Linked DNA regions of Homo sapiens. The protein of the gene in region 1 purifies or fractionates together with the protein of each later gene. This does not show direct contact. Each region holds a gene or a part of one and is shown on either strand. Other genes may lie near its edges.

Region 1 (5,308 bases):
CCTAGCCCAACTTTAACCCCACCACCCCACCTTCATTCAATCAATCAAATCTTTCTGGCACCTACTATGTGCCAGGTACTATGGCAGCTGGGGAGACATGGGCTCCTACCAGGAGAGACAGGCATCAAACAAGTGTGATAAGCGTTTCCGAGGACAAGTGGAGGGGGCGATATGACCAGAAATGGGGGGCAGGGAACACCACACTCTCTCAGGCTTGCCCGTCCTCCCTGAGATCCAGCTCTTCCCTCGGTTGCAGAAGATGTATATGAGAGGACCCTCACGGTGGATGGAGAAGACACCACACTGGTGGTCGTGGACACCTGGGAGGCCGAGAAACTGGTATGGCACTGCAAGCAGAATTTGGGGAGAGGGGTGCTGAGCCTAATACTAGACTCCTTCCTGTCCCCTCCTGGGGACACTACAGATCAGGTGTGAGCAACGGCCATCCTCAGCACCCTCCCCCAAAACCCACAGCTCCTAAGCAGTCTTTCCAATCCCAAACAGAAGACCCTTATGACCCTGACCCCTTTTCTCACTCCACAATCCCCTCCTAGCAGCCATCTCAGAATGTACTTCTCCCCCTGCAGATCTCCCCATCATTATTTCCACCCTCTTCCCACCCCTCCCACCCACATTGTACAGAAGGAACGCTGGATTTGGCCCCAAAATACCTAAGGCTGAACCCCCTTTCTTTTTCTTACTAGTTGTGTAGTTTTGTGCAATTGACTTAGCCACTCCGAGCTTCAGTTTTCTCATCTGATAAATGGGTTAACCATTCCTGCCTTCCTCATCAGCTAGTTTTTTAAAGTTCTTATGCAATTTCAGAGGTAAGCCCAGTTTAAAGCATGAAAAACTGCTGAATAGGGGTGAAGAATTGTAAATGATAACTCTTAGTAATTATGACTTGGTAGCTAGAGAAAAAGGAAATCAGGGCAGGAAGACAGCAGTAGGCAGGAATATGTCCCTATTATGATTTTATCTGGTTTGTGTTTTCTTTTCTTTTGCTACATGGGTAATACATGCTCATTGTAGAACTCTGAGGAAAAACACCTAAGCAAAGAGAAGGATCTAAAATCACCTGGGATCCCATCTCTCTAGGGGATAGGCTGCTCAAAAACTAAATGGTGAGTCTTCTGATTCCCATTCTACTGATGAGGAAACCAAAGACCAGAGCGGTTAAATAATAATAATAATGTGTCCAAAGCTCTCAAATAGCAAGTAAGATCCAAACCCAGATCTACAAAATCTTTGTAGATCTTATTCTTTTTTTTTTTTTTTTTTAGACAGAGTTTCACTCTTGTTGCCCAGGCTGGAGCGCAGTGGCGCCATCTCGGCTCACTGCAACCTCCGCCTCCCAGGTTCAAGCAATTCTCCTGCCTCAGCCTCCCAAGTAGCTAGGATTACAGGCACCTGTCACCATGCCCAGCTAATTTTTGTATTTTTAGTAGAGACAGGGTTTCATCATGTTGGTCAGGATAGTCTTGAACTCCTGACCTCAGGTGATCCACCCGCCTCGGCCTTCCAAAGTGCTGGGATTACAGGCATGAGCCACCATGCCCGGCCGAGGCTGTATTCTTATGCATTAGGACTGCATAAGAGTCCTCGTCTTATGACTGTCCTCCCCCTCAAGAGCATCACCTTCTGAACCTTCAGCTGAGGTTTCAGTCATTTGCTCATTCATTCATTCAGAAATACTTGCTGGGTGTCTATCATGGACCAGGACCTTGGAGACACAGAGATGAATAAGGCAGACAGGCCCTCTGGCTTCGTGGACCTCACAGGCTGGTTAGAGGGTCTACTTTTCATATGCAGCTGAGAATGCTATGGGGCAGTCAGTGTCCAGCAAGTTAAGATGGGTGATCAGACTGGGAGTCCCACTCAGGAGACAGGGGAGAAAGGATACTAGACTAGAAGGCGGGAGCTGGAACTCCACACCCAGCTTGCTTTCGCCTTGAGAACATTTTCTCCTCTTTTCTGGCCTTTTATTTTTGCAACCAGCAAAATTAGGAAACTGAACTAGTTTCCCTGATCGGTGACTGTGAAGAGAGGTCTCAAAGAGGGTCCAAGCAATAGCAGCATCATTGAAAAAAGTATCCATCCGTTCCGTCTGTGCGCTACATGGTACTCTGATATCAGAGAGGCTGAATCTGACAGAATTGGATGGGCCTTAGGACCTTAGTGTACCAGGTTGGCTGACCATCAGGACCACTTGGAGTGTATTAAAAATCAAATTATTGGCTGGGCGCGTTGGCTCATGTCTGTAATCCCAGCATTTTGGGAGGCCGAGGTGGGCAGATCACCTGAGGTCAGGAGTTTGAGACCAGCCTGACCAACATGGAGAAACCCCATCTCTACTAAAAATACAAAATTAGCCAGGTGTGGTGGTGCATGCCTGTAATCCCAGCTACTCAGGAGGCTAAGGCGGGAGAATCACTTGAACCTGGGAGGCAGAGGTTGCGGTAAGCAGAGATCATGCCATTGCACTCCAGCCTAGGCAACAAGAGCAAAACTCTGTCTCAAAAAAAATAAATAAATAAATAATAAAAATCAAATTATCAGGCCTCACCCTGGCCCTCACCCTCAGCCTGGGCAACAGAGCAAGACTCCATCTCAATAAAGATAGATAGATAGATAGATAGATAGATAGATAGATAGATAGACAGATACATACATACACACATACATACATACATACATACATACATACATACATAGATACTACAGCCCCACTTTTAGAGCTTCTTATTCTTTTATTTCTTTTCTTTTTTTTGAGATGGAGTCTCGCCCTGTCACCTAGGCTGGAGTGCAGTGTCGTGATCTCAGCTCACTGTAACCTCCGCCTCCCAGGTTCAAGCTATTCTTCTGCCTCAGCCTCCCGAGTAGCTGGGACTACAGGCACCCACCACCACGCCCAGCTATTTTTGTATTTTTAGTAGAGACAGGGTTTCACCACGTTAGCCAGGCTGGTCTCGAACTCCTGACCTCAGGTGATCTGCCCACCTCAGCCTCCCAAAGTGCTGGGATTACAAGCATAAGCCACCATGCCCAGCTGAGAATCTATATTTTTAATCACACTCCCAATAAGTTCATACCAACAAATCCATACACTAACTGGCTTTTGTGATCTTGAAATACAGCAAATCCTCCAAAAATATTTGTGCAATGAATGAATGAATGGTCAAGACTCACTTTCTCATTCTAGAGATGGGGAAAACTAAGACCCAAAGGAAGAAACCTGTCCATACTCAAGGTTGAGAACCCACATCTGTCTGACTCACCCTAAGGTTATTTGGCCTGGGAAATGATCAGTATGGCTGTTGAGAACTTACCCCCCTTTGACAATGACATTGACCACGAATCTGATGCTTTCCTATTCATCACCAAATTCCCATTTGGTTATCAGAAAATTTCTGGCTTCTGGCCGAGCACGGTGGCTCATGCCTGTAATCCCAGCACTTTGGGAGGCCGAGGTGGGTGGATCACCTGAGGTCAGGGTTTGAGACCAGCCTGGCCAATATCGTGAAACCCCGTCTCTACCAAAAACACAAAAAATTAGCTGGGCGTTGTGGCAGCTGCCTGTCATCCCAGCTACTCAGGAAGCCGAGGCAGGAGAATCACTTGAACCTGGGAGGTGGAGGTTGCAGTAAGCCAAGATCATGCCACTGCACTCCAGCCTGGGAGACAGAGTAGGACTCCATCTCAAAAAAAAGAAAAATGAAAGAAAATTTCTGGCTTCTTCACTACCTCACAACCACACACAGTCTTTCTCACTTCAGGCCTTAGCTCTGACTGTTCCCTTTGTCTGGAATCTCTTCCCTCCTGCTTGGCCTCCCCCTCCTTCCTAACCCCATTCGCCAGTCCCCTGTGAAGCCCTCGCACACTCTGCCAGGTGGGGTTGTTCTGGCCTCCCCACCCCACTCCTCCAGCCACTTACACATGTCTCTTACTGGTACTTTCACACTACACTATAACTCCCATTTCCATAAGCTCTCTTCCAGACCATGAGCTTTTGGAGGGCAGAAACCGTGTCTTACTCAACACTTATAAGGTTACTACCCAGGTAGTCCAGTCTTGGAGGGCTGTCCCTAACAAAAGATCACCATCCAAAATATCAAAAGCACTGCAGTTCTTTCTTTTTCTTGGTCAAACAACTTGAAAGGACTCCACTTCTTAAAGTGCCCCTTGACTGTCTCATCCCCTTGTGAACTTACACTTTACAGTTGCTCCTTCACCTCCATCTTCAAAACTGTCCTGAAAAATGCCTTCCCTCTAAAGTCAGCCTCCTGTCCTCACTTTTCTCTCTTTTTTCTCTTCATTCTGGATTTCACCAGGCATAAAGAACCATATGGCAAGACTAAACCCTCCTCAGAAACAAGACAAAAGAGCTAAACAGGTCAAGAGAGAACCCTCTTTAGCAGGAACAGGAACCAAGTAAATTTTGCCTGCACTACCCAGCCTGCAAAAGTATCAGTGAGTGAGAGAATTCTGTGAGGTAGTGTTATTAGCCTAAATTTTTAAGCAGAGAAACTGAGGCTCAGAAAGAATCACCAATTTTCCCAAGGTGACACAGGGAATTATAGCAGAAGTTGTCCCCCACACCTGTCCAAACTATAAACCTCAAGCTGCATCCCACCCATTAGACCATCCCAGCTCCACCTTCCTCAGCCAGGGCCTAGATACCCTCTGAGGATGGGTCTTGGGTCCCTCTCCTGCAGGATAAAAGCTGGAGCCAGGAGTCATGCCTGCAGGGGGGCAGTGCCTATGTCATCGTATACTCCATCGCAGACCGAGGCAGCTTTGAGAGTGCCTCTGAGCTCCGCATCCAGCTGCGGCGCACACATCAGGCAGACCATGTGCCCATCATCCTCGTGGGCAACAAGGCAGACTTGGCCCGCTGCCGAGAAGTCTCTGTGGAAGGTGAGCCCTCCATCCCACCACCTCCTCTTCACCTGGGCCCCACTGTCATGGCTGCTCCTCCAGCGCTCTTCATCTCAGTGACTGTCCCTGCCAAGCTGCCCCTACCCTGCAGCCACTTGCCTAAGCCTGCAAGCTGGGAACCATTCTTGCCTCCCACTCATCACCCCCAAACCAGTCCCCAGATCCTGTCAGGCCACCTCCATTAATTCCACATTCCCTTCCCTCTCTGCCTACAGTCTCTGTGCTATCCTGGCATCTCCACCTTCGCCAGTCCTCCTGCTTCTCAATTATTCCTCCTTGCCACCTGCCAGAATTTTCCAAGACCAGAGTTGAATTTGCACTTCTTAAAAATTCCTGTATGTGGTGGGGCATGGTGGCTCACAACTATAAT
Region 2 (3,634 bases), on another chromosome or scaffold:
AGTGCAGTGGCATGATCTCAGCTCACTGCAACCTCCGCCTCCCCAGTTCAAGTGATTCTCCTGCCTCAGCCTCCTGAGTAGCTGGGATTACAGGCGTGTGCTACCACACCCGGCTAATTTTTGTATTCTTTTTAGTAGAGACGGGGTTTCACCATGTTGGTCAAGTGGATCTCAAACTCTTGACCTTGTGATCCTCCTGCCTCGACCTCACAAAGTGCTGGAATTACAGGCGTGAGCCACCGCGCCTGGCCCTTTTTTTTTTTGAGACAGTTTCACTCTTGTTGCCGAGGCTAGAGCGCAATCGTGTGATCTCGGTTCACTGCAACCACCGCCTCCTGGGTTCAAGCAATTCTCCTGCTTCAGCCTCCCAAGGAGCTGGGATTACAGGTACCTGCCACCACGCCCGGCTAATTTTGTATTTTTAGTAGAGATGGGGTTTCACCATGTTGGTCAGGCTGGTCTTGAACTCCTGACCTCAGGTGATCTGGCCACCTTGGCCTCCCAAAGTGCCGGGATTAGAGGCATGAGCCACCACGCCCAGCCTTCATCACATCTTGAGAGAGGACACTGTCTGCCTCTTGCTCTGATGAGGGTCTGATGCAAGGATAGTGAGTCTCTACAGTGCACACTTAAGAAAGGCAGCATGTGGGTGCTCACAGGTCAGCGGAGGAGGGGGAGCTGGTGGGGACCAGGCATGCCTTGCTCCAGATCAGGATATGATGGCATTGGTGCAGATTATATTAGTATAGAATATGGTCTCAGGAACCAGGCAGGACTTTGGCTTCCGAGCAGGGTTCAGATCCCAGCTTGGCCCTACCTGTGCAGTGAGATCTCAAGCAAGTCAGCCTCTAAGCCTCAGGTTCCTCCTTTGCCAGTTCAACAGATGAGCTGGCCTGGGGTGGGCTGTGTGGTGATGGTGCTGGGGCTGGGTCCTCTGCCCCTGCAGGTGGTCTATGTTGCCCGAAACCCAAAGGACGTGGCGGTCTCCTACTACCATTTCCACCGTATGGAAAAGGCGCACCCTGAGCCTGGGACCTGGGACAGCTTCCTGGAAAAGTTCATGGCTGGAGAAGGTGGGCTTGACTGGAGGAAGGAGGGTGTGAAGCCGAGGGGTGGTGGCTATAACGTACAGCAACCCTGTGTCGGTGCCCCCTGCCCGCTTCTCTAGTGTCCTACGGGTCCTGGTACCAGCACGTGCAGGAGTGGTGGGAGCTGAGCCGCACCCACCCTGTTCTCTACCTCTTCTATGAAGACATGAAGGAGGTGAGACCGACTGTGATGCTTCCCCCCATGTGACACCTGGGGGCAGGCACCTCACAGGGACCCACCAAGGCCACCCAGCCCCGTCCCTGGGCGGCTCCCACAGCAAGCCCGGATTCCCCATCCTACCTCCCTGGCCCAGGCCCCCCCACTGCAGCCCCACCTGGCAGCAGGCTCGGCACAGCTTTCATCTTCTGCACCTGAGTCAGCTGCATGGGTGGCCACGGATCAGATACTTAGTCCTATTGCTTATCCTCACCAAAGGGTGTGCCACCCAGGGCCACAGTCATGGAAGAAGACCATCCCGGTCCTCACCCATAGGCGCCAAGCCCTGTTCATGATGGGATCACAGGGCAGAGATCAATTCATTTTACTCCAGAGACTAGGGCCCCAGGGGTTGAGGCTCTTTGGGGTTTCTAGGGGAAGTGGCCAGATCCCCTCTGAGGTTAGAGAGGGGGACCCGTTTTGTTTTGCTCCACTGAGGAGCCCTCTGCTGCTCAGAACCCCAAAAGGGAGATTCAAAAGATCCTGGAGTTTGTGGGGCGCTCCCTGCCAGAGGAGACCATGGACTTCATGGTTCAGCACACGTCGTTCAAGGAGATGAAGAAGAACCCTATGACCAACTACACCACCGTCCCCCAGGAGCTCATGGACCACAGCATCTCCCCCTTCATGAGGAAAGGTGGGTGCTGGCCAGCACGGGGGTTTGGGGCGGGTGGGAGCAGCAGCTGCAGCCTCCCCATAGGCACTTGGGGCCTCCCCTGGGATGAGACTCCAGCTTTGCTCCCTGCCTTCCTCCCCCAGGCATGGCTGGGGACTGGAAGACCACCTTCACCGTGGCGCAGAATGAGCGCTTCGATGCGGACTATGCGGAGAAGATGGCAGGCTGCAGCCTCAGCTTCCGCTCTGAGCTGTGAGAGGGGCTCCTGGAGTCACTGCAGAGGGAGTGTGCGAATCTACCCTGACCAATGGGCTCAAGAATAAAGTATGATTTTTGAGTCAGGCACAGTGGCTCATGTCTGCAATCCCAGCGATTTGGGAGGTTGAGCTGGTAGGATCACAATAGGCCACGAATTTGAGACCAGCCTGGTAAAATAGTGAGACCTCATCTCTACAAAGATGTAAAAAAATTAGCCACATGTGCTGGCACTTACCTGTAGTCCCAGCTACTTGGGAAGCAGAGGCTGGAGGATCATTTCAGCCCAGGAGGTTGTGGATACAGTGAGTTATGACATGCCCATTCACTACAGCCTGGATGACAAGCAAGACCCTCCCTCCAAAGAAAATAAAGCTCAAAATAAAATATGATTTGTGTTCATGTAGAGCCTGTATTGGAAAGGAAGAGAAACTCTGAGCTGAAAGAGTGAATGCCCGGTGGGGCCACATATGGTCACCTCTCCCCCAGCCTTCAGCTCCCCAGGTCACCATATCTGGGGAGGGGAGAAGGGTTTGGAGAAGTAAAACCCAGGAGATGTGTGGAGGGGGGATGTCTGTTTAATCCCAGCACATCCTCTGCTGTCCTGCCCCAAGATGGTGGAGGACGTCGAGTCCGCCGGGCAGCGTCACTTTTTCTTGGGCTCCTTAGAAGCTACCAGGTACCTCTGGGCCACACTGAGATGAGGGGAGTAGCCGTCTGCATAGGAGGTGTCTTCAAACAGGATAGAATAGTCCTCCTGGGGCTGTGGGGCAGGTGGACAGGAAGGGCAGAGAGCAGCCCCGGGGCTGGTGTCACTCACTTGTTGGTGGCATGGCTGTAACTGACCACCTCGGCCAGGATCCACTGCTCATCCCCATCCACGGCCTTCACCCGGGCAGCCACCTTGTCTCCAGGTCTGGCCACGTAGTCTCCTGAGGCAGGGATGGCCCCACAGAGGGGTGGGGGCCTGTGAGTGGAACAAAGGATCAGTCCCAGCCCCTGGGCACCAGCCCCTTCCTCGCAGCTGCTGCCCTCACTTGTCACCAGGCTTCCCAATCCACAGGGGCAGGGTCATGGCCGACTGCTGCAGCAGGGTCATCAGCACCCCTCTGCGCATGGTCTTCCGGGGTGGCTCCAAGTCATTGTAGAGACCCGCGATCTTGGCCACTGTGGGAAGAAAGGGAGGCCTGAGGCCCCAGGGACAGGGGCTGGCCCTGACCCCCCAGCATGCTGAACTGAGCTGCTGGAGGAGCACCTGGGAGCCCCCAGCTCCCGAGTGAGCCCGAGGGCACAGCAGGACTGTGACCTGATCTGCCAGGTGTCCTACAGGGGCTGCTGCGCTCAACTACATATGGGTGAGACGGCAGCACACCAGGCACCCAGGGGAAGGAACCAGGGAGGGACAAAGCGGGTTCTGAGGTGCTGGTGAGGTTCTCTTCTTGATGTCGGTGCTGACAC

Evidence for each region. Proteins that work in one complex are often made in the same cells at the same time.
Region 2: the proteins of REM1 (region 1) and SULT1A4 fractionate together in Homo sapiens (co-fractionation; one large-scale study listed by BioGRID). This does not show direct contact.

What each region holds. Positions count from the first base shown.
Region 1 is NC_000020.11:31,477,572-31,482,879, forward strand, and holds part of REM1 (GTP-binding protein REM 1), read left to right. Parts: intron 1-232; coding exon of another isoform or gene 233-256; coding exon 257-339; intron 340-4,715; coding exon 4,716-4,917; intron 4,918-5,308. UniProt on the Homo sapiens protein: Promotes endothelial cell sprouting and actin cytoskeletal reorganization. May be involved in angiogenesis. May function in Ca(2+) signaling.
Region 2 is NC_000016.10:29,462,399-29,466,032, forward strand, and holds the end of SULT1A4 (sulfotransferase 1A4), read left to right. Parts: intron 1-946; coding exon 947-1,073; intron 1,074-1,168; coding exon 1,169-1,263; intron 1,264-1,761; coding exon 1,762-1,942; intron 1,943-2,064; coding exon 2,065-2,177; 3' UTR 2,178-2,568; downstream 2,569-3,634. UniProt on the Homo sapiens protein: Sulfotransferase that utilizes 3'-phospho-5'-adenylyl sulfate (PAPS) as sulfonate donor to catalyze the sulfate conjugation of phenolic monoamines (neurotransmitters such as dopamine, (R)-adrenaline/epinephrine, (R)-noradrenaline/norepinephrine and serotonin) and phenolic and catechol drugs.